3 linked regions of the Homo sapiens genome follow. The protein of the gene in region 1 purifies or fractionates together with the protein of each later gene. This does not show direct contact. Each region holds a gene or a part of one and is shown in the gene's direction. Other genes may lie near its edges.

Region 1 (3,094 bases):
TCCTAACTCACTGCAGCCTTTGCCTCCCAGGCTCAAGTGATCCTCCCACCTCAGCCTCCCAGGTAGCTGGAACTACAGGTGTGTGCTACCACACCTGGCTAATTTTTGTATTTTTTGTAGAGACAGGGTTTTTCTGTGTTGGCTGGGCTGGTCTTGAACTGTTGGGCTCAAGCAATCCACCAGCCTCAGCCTCCCAAAGTGCCGGGATTACAGGTGTGAGCCACTGTGCCTGGCCTCATTTCTACTTCAAAAGTATCTGGCTATGTTTTGAGGCAACAGCCAGACCCGTGAAGCTATTCAATTCATCAATACAGGAATGGCTGAAAGGGGGTGTGTGTGGGACTAAGCTGAATACAGGGTGAATATAAAGAGGCCTGATTCCAGAGTGGGAACAGGCACCCCCTGGTGGTAGCATGCCACAATTGCGGGCAAAATTCTCGGGAGAAAATGCAGCCACCTTAATTGTAAAATATAATTTTCAAACCACCACTGGAGGTTTGGAAAACATCATCTCAAAACTCAAACTAGATTACATAAAGCAAGAAGCAGGGAAGCAGCAAGAGAAAGGTAGATGACAGATCGACAGGCAGATGGATGATAGAGACTGGGCCAAGGAAAAGAAACATACAGGCAGAAATGAGGATACAATGAAGACCTGGAAGAAAGAGTTTGAAAGAGAGAGCTAGAGACTAAGTAATAACAAAGTGTAAGACAGATGAAAATTTAACCAGATTCCAGAATAATTAAGAGAAATGACACTAGCTCAGGTGTGTGGGGATCCCAGTAACTCTGAGGTTGCAACCTCTCCATGATCTCTGTAGGGGCTTCTTCAAGAGCTAGAATCGCGGACTTTCAGTCCACAATCTGCAGACCACAGTCTGTAGACCAGCTCCAGGCAAGGCGTGGGGATCCCTCAGGTCCTGGTAATTTTCAACATCGAGTGGACATTTATTGAACACTTCTTCTATAGCAGTCCCAGTGCTGGATGAAGTAATGCAGTATCTGAGACAGGAAGGGCTCTAACCATCTGTGGATATAAGAAAATTTATTAAAGAGGTAGGGTCTTAGGTTTCACATTCATGTTCTAATTCAGCAGGGCCAGAGGTGGAGACCTGGAATTTCAATTTTCTGAAGGCATCTTGGGAGAGACTGGTAGAGCTAATCTGTTAGCCTTTGAGAACCGCTGCTGAGAGGAATGGTGTTGGGGGGGAATAGTCCTTTGAGGAGGCAACGAGGAGGGGAGACCCCCAAACCTGATTCTGTCCTCTTTCCTCCCAGTTCCCTTGCCCCACCCTCAGACCCTGCAGAAGCTGAAGGTTCCTATCATCGACTCGGAAGTCTGCAGCCATCTGTACTGGCGGGGAGCAGGACAGGGACCCATCACTGAGGACATGCTGTGTGCCGGCTACTTGGAGGGGGAGCGGGATGCTTGTCTGGTGAGCTCCCTCGAGCCCCCCACCCCTGGCCAGGAGGGCCTCGGGAAGGAGCCAGCGTCAGTCCTGTCCCCACTGAGCCCCACAACCTCTCCCTGGCCTCCTCCCCAGAACTGGCTGTGCCTGACAGTCCCGGGTCCCCATAGAACCAGCCTCAGCCTGGCTCAGCCACTCACTTATTTGTTCAGACATTAAACTGGGCATCCCAGCTGCACCACCTCGCCCTCCGCGAGCTTTCATTTCCTTCAGGGGGCTTCCCACGCCTCAGTGCCCAGAGCCAGCTGTAGCTCAGGGGCTGTCTGGAAGACGGTCAGATGGTGCAGCGGCAGCACCCGCGCCTGGACGTCTTAAGGCCTGGCTGCAGCTCCTACTCTGCCGCCGGGGACTTCTCACCTGGGTGGAGCTCAGGTCCTGTCTCCTCCAGGAAGGAGAAACGGGCTCCCGGGAAGGGGCTCATCTGCCCCCTGACAGGGCACGGGCCCTGGATTCTGCCACCCCCTGTGCCACGGGGGTTCCTAACCTCGCCTCCTCTCTGCAGGGCGACTCCGGGGGCCCCCTCATGTGCCAGGTGGACGGCGCCTGGCTGCTGGCCGGCATCATCAGCTGGGGCGAGGGCTGTGCCGAGCGCAACAGGCCCGGGGTCTACATCAGCCTCTCTGCGCACCGCTCCTGGGTGGAGAAGATCGTGCAAGGGGTGCAGCTCCGCGGGCGCGCTCAGGGGGGTGGGGCCCTCAGGGCACCGAGCCAGGGCTCTGGGGCCGCCGCGCGCTCCTAGGGCGCAGCGGGACGCGGGGCTCGGATCTGAAAGGCGGCCAGATCCACATCTGGATCTGGATCTGCGGCGGCCTCGGGCGGTTTCCCCCGCCGTAAATAGGCTCATCTACCTCTACCTCTGGGGGCCCGGACGGCTGCTGCGGAAAGGAAACCCCCTCCCCGACCCGCCCGACGGCCTCAGGCCCCGCCTCCAAGGCATCAGGCCCCGCCCAACGGCCTCATGTCCCCGCCCCCACGACTTCCGGCCCCGCCCCGGGCCCCAGCGCTTTTGTGTATATAAATGTTAATGATTTTTATAGGTATTTGTAACCCTGCCCACATATCTTATTTATTCCTCCAATTTCAATAAATTATTTATTCTCCAGTGTCTGTTTTTTCCCATGCCTGGGGACACTGGAAAGCAAGGGTCCAGAGGGGGTTAAGGTTGGGGGTTGGATGTTGGCCTAGCCAGAGACTGCGTGGTCCTGTCCACCTGGGGCTGACGCCGACCCCTGCTTCCACCTAGGGTTCAGCCTTCTGACCCCTGACCTTTGCAGCCCTGGGCCACCCTCCCTTTTATCCCTCTCCCACCAGGGCAGGGCAGCCGATGGAGAAGGGGCAGAGTCTAGAGGCCTGGAAGACCCAGCTCTGGTGCTTCAGGAAGGGGAGGAGAGGGGTTGGGACTCCGAAACTGTGCGTTGGATTCCAAAACAGGGCTGGTGAGGAGAAACCCAGCCCCATGAGAGTGAGGTGCTACCTCTCTACCCCAGGCCAAGCCCCCCCTTCTGCTCTCTCCACCACAGGCCTCAGGGGCCTCAGGATGGCAGAGCTGCGGGTGGTGGTGGAGGGAGGCGCCCAGGTGAGCCCCATCAGAGCCCCGTCTCCGTGGGCTGGCTGTTGGGTCCTCA
Region 2 (3,653 bases), on another chromosome or scaffold:
TCTTTGCAGCATATGGAACATGTTCTGCTACTTGAGATAATGGGAAACATGTTCTAGTTTAAGATACAATAGATCTATGAGCCTAGGAGTGCTAGAAGCAAGGAGCCAGCAAGTCTAGACACATTCCAGAGGCCACGCCCTGAGCCCTGGATTCCATTCAAGCCACGAAGGGTTTTATGCCCTGGGCTTAGATTATGGTGCTGCAGGGCAGCCTTCTGCCCTTTAGCACAGAGCTTGGTGTTCCCAAGGCCATGAGGGGTTTTAGACCCTGGACCCTGGACATGTTCCAAGACTCTTTTACATTAAGTGAGACATGCAAGCCCTGCTTTAGCTTCTCCCAACAGTTGGTTGATTGGTTTTAATTTTTTTAAACAATTTTAACTTTTATAGGTTCAGCCATTCTTTGGTTGATGGCTTCGCCTTTGGCATCTTGTCAGCCTGATGGCATGATTCCAAATTAATGTCAAACCAGTACTAAGCTACATTATCTGAAATTGTGTGTAGTTATGCCCTTAAGGCAAGAATACTTATCCTGGGACCTATGATCAAGATTTAGGGGATCTAGTAATAACCAAAAAAGTATATCAACATTTGTTTGTATATGCATGTTTTTAGGAATAAGGTCGTGGAAGCTTTCATTAAGTTCTCTTAGTAGTCTGTACCAAAATAAGGTTTAAAATCAATGCCCTAAGGTATTCCTTTTGGCTGCCTTCCTATTTCTCCTGTAGTGCTAGGTAGGTACAGGGCTATAAACCCAAAAGATAAAGCTAAGACCTCATTATCTGGGCATCAGGTAAGGAAGCATTATTGAACACATAGAGCATAAATAAGGATTTACAAAATATGGAATTAACAGTTTACAGACATTTCCCCCAAACTCTGTAAATTTGTAGCTACTGAGTTTAAAGTAACTCTAAAATCATATTTGGAATTCTACAAATTAAAACGTAAGTAGCAAAAAGAGAACATTTATTGTTTTAAATTATAACACAGAGTAATACTTTAAGAGTGGAGTTGCTAGGCCAGGCGCATTGGCTCATGCCTATAAGCACTTTGGGAGGCTGAGGCAGGTGAATCACCTGAGGTGAGGTCAGGAGTTCGAGACCAACCTGGCCAACATGGTGAAACACTGTTTCTACTAAAAATACAAAAATTAGCCGGGAGTGGTGGTGTGTGCCTGTAATTGGGAGGCTGAGGCAAGAGAATCACTTGAACCTGGGAAGCAGAGGTTGCAGTGAACCGAGATTGTGCCATTGCACTCCAGCCTAGGGGACAAGAGCGAAACTTCATCTCAAGAAAAAAAAAAAAAGAGTAGAATTCTGATGTAACCGATGCAGAATATTGAAAAAGGAAAAATGGCTGGCTTGTAAAAAATTTATTGGTACTGATTTGAGGTGGTGATTTGATTGTAAAAGATTATCTGTTCTTTAAACAGAGTAAGGATCAGTCAACTGTAACTTAACAATGTTTTCTCTAAAATCTTCTACTACTTATACTTTAATGCTCTTCTCACAAAATACCCTCTGTTCTAACGTTTAATCACCTAGTTGACCAGTAAAAGATGCTATATTCAGATGACAAACATCAATTGTTATTCCAGTTAATATCTCCCACTTAGGACCTTTGTTTATTGGATCAGGTCCTTGTGAATTTAATTAGTAGATCCCAGTCATCTTTAGATGAATAGATGACACGAGAACTTACATTTCTAAAGCTCATGACTAGACTTTGAATTATGGTGTCTCTGTATTCAGTCAGTCAAATATTTATTGAGTGCATACTGTATGTCAGGGATCCAGCAGTGAACCAGGCACATATTGTCTCTGTCCTCATGGAGCTTGCAGGCTAGCGACCAGGAAGACAAATTAACAAGCAGTTTCCAACAACATAATAAGTACTATGGGTAATCTGTACCCTGGTTTTACTGTGCTCATTCTATAGTAGCTGTTTGGGTGACAGTTGCAATCTTGCCCTCCATAAATGTCCGTCCACTTATGTAACTAACAGCATCTTTTCAGAGTGTATAGGCATCTCAGGACACCTTAGTAAAGATAGAGAGTACAACCATTCTAAATTAGAACTTCATTTTATTTTGGAATCTGTCTGCCAGCCTCTCTAAAGTCATGTTTAACCTAATATGGTTTTCAGTTTCTCTAACAGGGCATCAGTGCGCAAATGCTGTAACAAAATAACAAAATTTAGCAACAACTTTAGCTTTGTATCACGTAAGATAAACTCCAGGGTAAGTTACATGTATCTTTACATTTTTTTTTTTTAAGACCGGATCACTCTATGTTGCCCAGGCTGGCCTTGAACTCCTGGGCTCAAGTGATTCACCCACCTCAACCTCCCTAGTAGCTGAGACTACAAGTGTGCACCACCATGTCTGAGTTGACCTTACCATTTTTCATGGCTCTTATTACAACCCAGGTTCTCTTAACAAATTGAGGTGAAGACGTGTTGTCCACCAAATTGCATCTTTATGCAATTTTATGCAATCCTTACCAAGTTTTCATTTATGAAATTGGTAAATTTGAGAACTCTCACAAAACAAAATCCCCACAACCCTATAATTTGTATGCAGTGAATAATTCCTCTGTATGTACATCGGTAACATGTCCTGATCATATCTTAGAACTGTAGCTTTTATCTATCATGATCAGATACCTGTCATTGATAAGTTTGATTTTAAGTAGTCTCTTAACTTGGACAGTTCCTGAAAATTTTCTTCTTCCTAATGGTGAGGTTCTTAGTACTTGGTGCAAGCTGTTTTTTTCCAAGTATGCCCAAAACACTGAGAATGCACTTGTTTAAAATTCGGAGGATTCTTATATTTCATAGCACACCCTTAAGTCTCTTCTTTTTGCATATGGAGAAACACTGACCCTGCAAGATTTAAGTGACTTGTTCAAGGCCGTACTCAACAGAGTCCAGAGGAAGTGAAATTCCTTCCTGATTTGCTCCAGCCACTGTGTTTCATGACTAGGCAGCATAGTAACGGTGCCTATTATTACCCAGATGACTAAAATTATTGGGAAATAACAAATCCGGCCAGGCGCGGTGGCTCATGCCTATAATCCCAGCACTTTGGGAGGCCAAGGCAGGTGGATCATGAGGTCAAGAGATCAAGACCATCCTGGCCAACATGGTGAAACCCTGTCTCTACTAAAAATACATAAATTAGCTGGGTGTGGTGGCACACGCCTGTAGTCCCAGCTACTTGGGAGGCTGAGGCAGGAGAATCACTTGAACCCGGGAGGCGGAGGTTGCAGTGAGCCGAGATCGCGCCACTGCACTCCAGCCTCGTGACAGAGCAAGACTCCGTCTCAAAAAAAAAAAAAAAAAAATTCACCCAGAGGACTTGATGTGATGTATTTCTGTTGTTTTCATAAATTTCAGATGGTAAGACATTGATTATTTTTGAAGGGGTGGCCTGCCCCTCCACAACCTGTGGGTGTTTCTCGTCATGTGGGACGAGAGACTGAGAAAAGAAATAAGACACAGAGACAAAGTATAGAGAAAGAAAAGTGGGCCCAGGGGACCTGCACCCTGTCTCTGAGTTCCCTCAGTATTTATTGATCATTATCTCTACCATCTTGGAGAGGGGGTTGTGGCAGGACAATAGTGTAATAGTGGGGAGAGGGTCAGCAGGA
Region 3 (3,653 bases), about 67 Mb from region 1:
TACAGTGGCATGATCTTGGCTCACTGCAACCTCTGCCCTCCGGGTTCAAGTGATTCTCCTGCCTCAGACTCCCAAGTAGCTGGGATTACAGGTGCCTGCCACCATGGCTGGCTAATTTTGTATTTTTAGTACAGATGGGGTTTCACCACGTTGGCCAGGCTGGTCTCAAACTCTTGACCTCAGGTTATCCATCTGCCTCGGCCTCCCAAAGTGCTGAGATTATAGGTGTGAGCCACTGTGCCCAGACTTCTTTCTTTTTTTTTTGAGAGAGAGTCTCGCCCTGTCGCCCAGGCTGGAGAGCAGTGGCACAGTCTTGGCTCACTGCAAGCTCTGCCTCTGGGGTTCACACCATTCTCCTGCCTCAGCCTCCTGAGTAGCTGGGACTACAGGCGCCCACCACTACGCCCAGCTAATTTTTTGTATTTTTAGTAGAGACGGGGTTTCACTGTGTTAGCCAGGATGGTCTCTATCTGCTGACCTCGTGATCCTCCCGCCTTGGCCTCCCAAAGTGCTGGGATTACAGGCGTGAGCCACTGCGCCTGGCCGCCTTCTTTTTTTTATTTTGAGACAGTTTCGCTAGGTCACCTAGGCTGGAGTTCTGACTCCAGGCACGAGCCACCGTGCCTGGCCACACCCAGCTAATTTTCTAAAAATTTTTTTTGTAGGCCAAACATGGTGGCTCATGCCTGTAATCCCAGCACTTTAGCAGGCCGAGGTGGGTGGATCACGAGGTCAGGAGATAGAGACCATCCTGGCCAACATGGTGAAACCCCATCTCTACTAAACATAGAAAAATTAGCCAGGTGTGGTGGCATGTGCCTGTCGTCCCAGCTACTCAGGAGGCTGAGGCAGGAGAATCACTTGAACCCGGGAGGTGGAGGTTGCAGTGAGCCAAGATCGTGCCACTGCACTCCAGCCTGGGCGATAGAGCAAGACTCTGTCTCAAAACAAAACAAACAAAAAAAAACAAACAAATTTTTTTTTTTTTTGTAAAGACAGTGTCTTGCTATGTTGCCCAAGCTGGTCTAGAACTCCAAGTCTCAAGCAATCCTCCTGCCTCGTCCCCTCAAAGTGATGGGATTACAGGTGTGAGCCACTAGGCCAGGACTGAATTTGTTTAATTGCCTAATTTATTTATCTTCATTAGCAGAATAAAAACCCAGAATGTTTATGGCTATTGACTCTGGGGCTTATTCTGTTAATTATTTTTTGTTACTAATTTTTTCTACACTAGTTTGTTTTACAGTTAATATTATTTAAGTAATTTTAAAAGTGTTGTTGGCCGGACATGATGGCTCATACCTGTAATCTCAGCACTTTGGGAGCCTAAGGTGGGTGGATCATTGTAAGGTTAGGAGTTCGAGACCAGCCTGACCAACATGATGAAACCCAGTCTCTACTAAAAATACAAAAATATTAGCTGGGCATGGTGGTGCACACCTGTAATCCCAGCTACTCAGGAGGCTGAGGCAGGAGAATTGCTTGAACCCGGGAGGGGGAGGTTGCAGTGAGCCGAGATTGCACCACTGTACTCCAGCCTGGGCGACAGAATGAGATTCTGTCTCAAAAAAAAAAAAGTGTTAGAGGTTTGGTTGAGTTTTATGGATCTCTGAAACAAATGTGACCTTATGAAAATCAAGTCTGCATACAGTGTCCTAATGCCAACTTGAGGCCAGTTCTGAAAAGTAAATAATACAGTGAAACTTATTGGGAGATAATCATTTAAAATTTTGCAATTTGTATTCGAATTAGAAGGGTAGAGAATTCTGAATTTTTTTTTTTTTTTTTTTTTTGAGACAGAGTCTCAGTCTGTCTCCGGGCTGGAGTGCAGTGGCGCGATCTCGGCTCACTGCAACCTCCGCCTCCTGGGTTCAAGCGATTCTCCTGCCCCAGCCTCCCAAATAGCTGAGATTACATGAGCCCACCACCACACCCAGCTAATTTTTGTATTTTTAGTAGAGATGGGGTTTCGCCATGTTGGCCAGGCTGGTCTCGAACTCCTGACCTCAGGTGATCCGCCTGCCTCAGCCTTCCAAAATGCTGGGATTACAGGCATGAGCCACCGTGCCCGGCCCTTTTAGTTATTTTTAAATGTACAATATATTGTTGACTGTAGTCACCACATTGTGCTATCAAATGCTAGATCTTACTTATTTTAATTGTATTTTTGTACCCATTACCTTTTCAGCATTTTTGTCTGTTTTTATGTCCATTAAATGCTATAGTGATATCCTAACCTTTCCTTAATATATTAATGCAAACAGCAAAACATTTGCATTAAAATATATAATAGGTTTAGAATTTCTCAGAGAGAAGAGCTGGCTTTGCCTTTGAAATACCCATGGAGGCCGGGCACGGTGGCTCATGCCTGTAATCCCAGCACTTTGGGAGGCCGAGGCAGGTGGATCACCAGGTCAGGAGTTCAAGACCAGCCTGGCCAAGAGAGTGAAACCCACCTCTACTAAAAATACAAAAAAAAAAAAAATTAGCCAGGTGCAGTGGCAGGTGCCTGTAATCCTAGATACTTGGGAGGCTGAGGCAGGAGAATCGCTTGAACCTGGGCGGCAGAGGTTGCAGTGAGTCGAGATCATGCCATTGCACTCCAGCCTGGGCAACAGAGTGAGACTCTGTCTCAAAAAAAAAAAAAAAAAAAAAGAAAGAAAGAAATACCCACACATGGAAAACATCTTGGGGTCTCCACAGTGGAAAGAGGCCAGAAGATCAGTGAGCAGATTGTCATTGGCACCCCTGGGACTGTGCTGGACTGGTGCTCCAAGCTCAAGTTCATTGATCCCAAGAAAATCAAGGTGTTTGTTCTGGATGAGGCTGATGTCATGATAGCCACTCAGGGCCACCAAGATCAGAGCATCCGCATCCAGAGGTAGGGATCTCGAGGGTGGGGGACTCCTCAGATTCCCCATCTGCAGTGTCTTCTCCCTTCACTTCAGATGCCTCCTCTGGCTTCTGCCTGGGTCTTGGCTCTCGTACTCTCAGCAGCATTTGTTTGACGGGCCACTTCCGTGTCAGCGCTGGCCACAGTCCCTCCCAGCCTGGGTTGAGAAAGGAGACCTAGGGACTCTCCCCCAACCCCTGTCCCCATCCCAGGCCTGCTGCTCCTCCTCCCCAAGACGCTCCTCTCCCATCAGCCTTCCTGGGCATCTAGACCCTCCCAGCTGGGAAGGCTGTGCTTCTGTCGCTTCCCGGGGCCACCTGGGGCCACCTACCAGGGCCTTCCCTTGCAGGATGCTGCCCAGGAACTGCCAGATGCTGCTTTTCTCCGCCACCTTTGAAGACTCTGTGTGGAAGTTTGCCCAGAAAGTGGTCCCAGACCCAAACGTTATCAAACTGAAGCGTGAGGAAGAGACCCTGGACACCATCAAGCAGTACTATGTCCTGTGCAGCAGCAGAGACGAGAAGTTCCAGGCCTTGTGTAACCTCTACGGGGCCATCACCATTGCTCAAGCCATGATCTTCTGCCATGTGAGTAGCAGTGGCAGTGGCAGGCCTGGCCCTTCCCTCTCAGCCAGCTCCCCACAGGGCTCAGGAGGACTGGATGCCCCTGGGTGCCATGGGAAGAAACGAAGTGGTTTGTTCTCCTAAGGTTTTAGTGAGTCGTAAGAGGGAGACTTTGATTCCACTTCTTAGTGATTACT

What was found.
Region 2: the proteins of PRSS22 (region 1) and TCP11L1 purify together in Homo sapiens (affinity purification with mass spectrometry; one large-scale study listed by BioGRID and IntAct). This does not show direct contact.
Region 3: the proteins of PRSS22 (region 1) and DDX19B purify together in Homo sapiens (affinity purification with mass spectrometry; one large-scale study listed by BioGRID and IntAct). This does not show direct contact.

The regions. Positions count from the first base shown.
Region 1 is NC_000016.10:2,852,207-2,855,300, reverse strand, and holds the end of PRSS22 (brain-specific serine protease 4 precursor), read left to right. Parts: intron 1-1,278; coding exon 1,279-1,436; intron 1,437-1,971; coding exon 1,972-2,208; 3' UTR 2,209-2,571; downstream 2,572-3,094. UniProt on the Homo sapiens protein: Preferentially cleaves the synthetic substrate H-D-Leu-Thr-Arg-pNA compared to tosyl-Gly-Pro-Arg-pNA.
Region 2 is NC_000011.10:33,045,921-33,049,573, forward strand, and holds part of TCP11L1 (T-complex protein 11-like protein 1), read left to right. Parts: intron 1-3,653.
Region 3 is NC_000016.10:70,326,589-70,330,241, forward strand, and holds part of DDX19B (ATP-dependent RNA helicase DDX19B), read left to right. Parts: intron 1-2,703; coding exon 2,704-2,881; intron 2,882-3,242; coding exon 3,243-3,480; intron 3,481-3,653. UniProt on the Homo sapiens protein: ATP-dependent RNA helicase involved in mRNA export from the nucleus.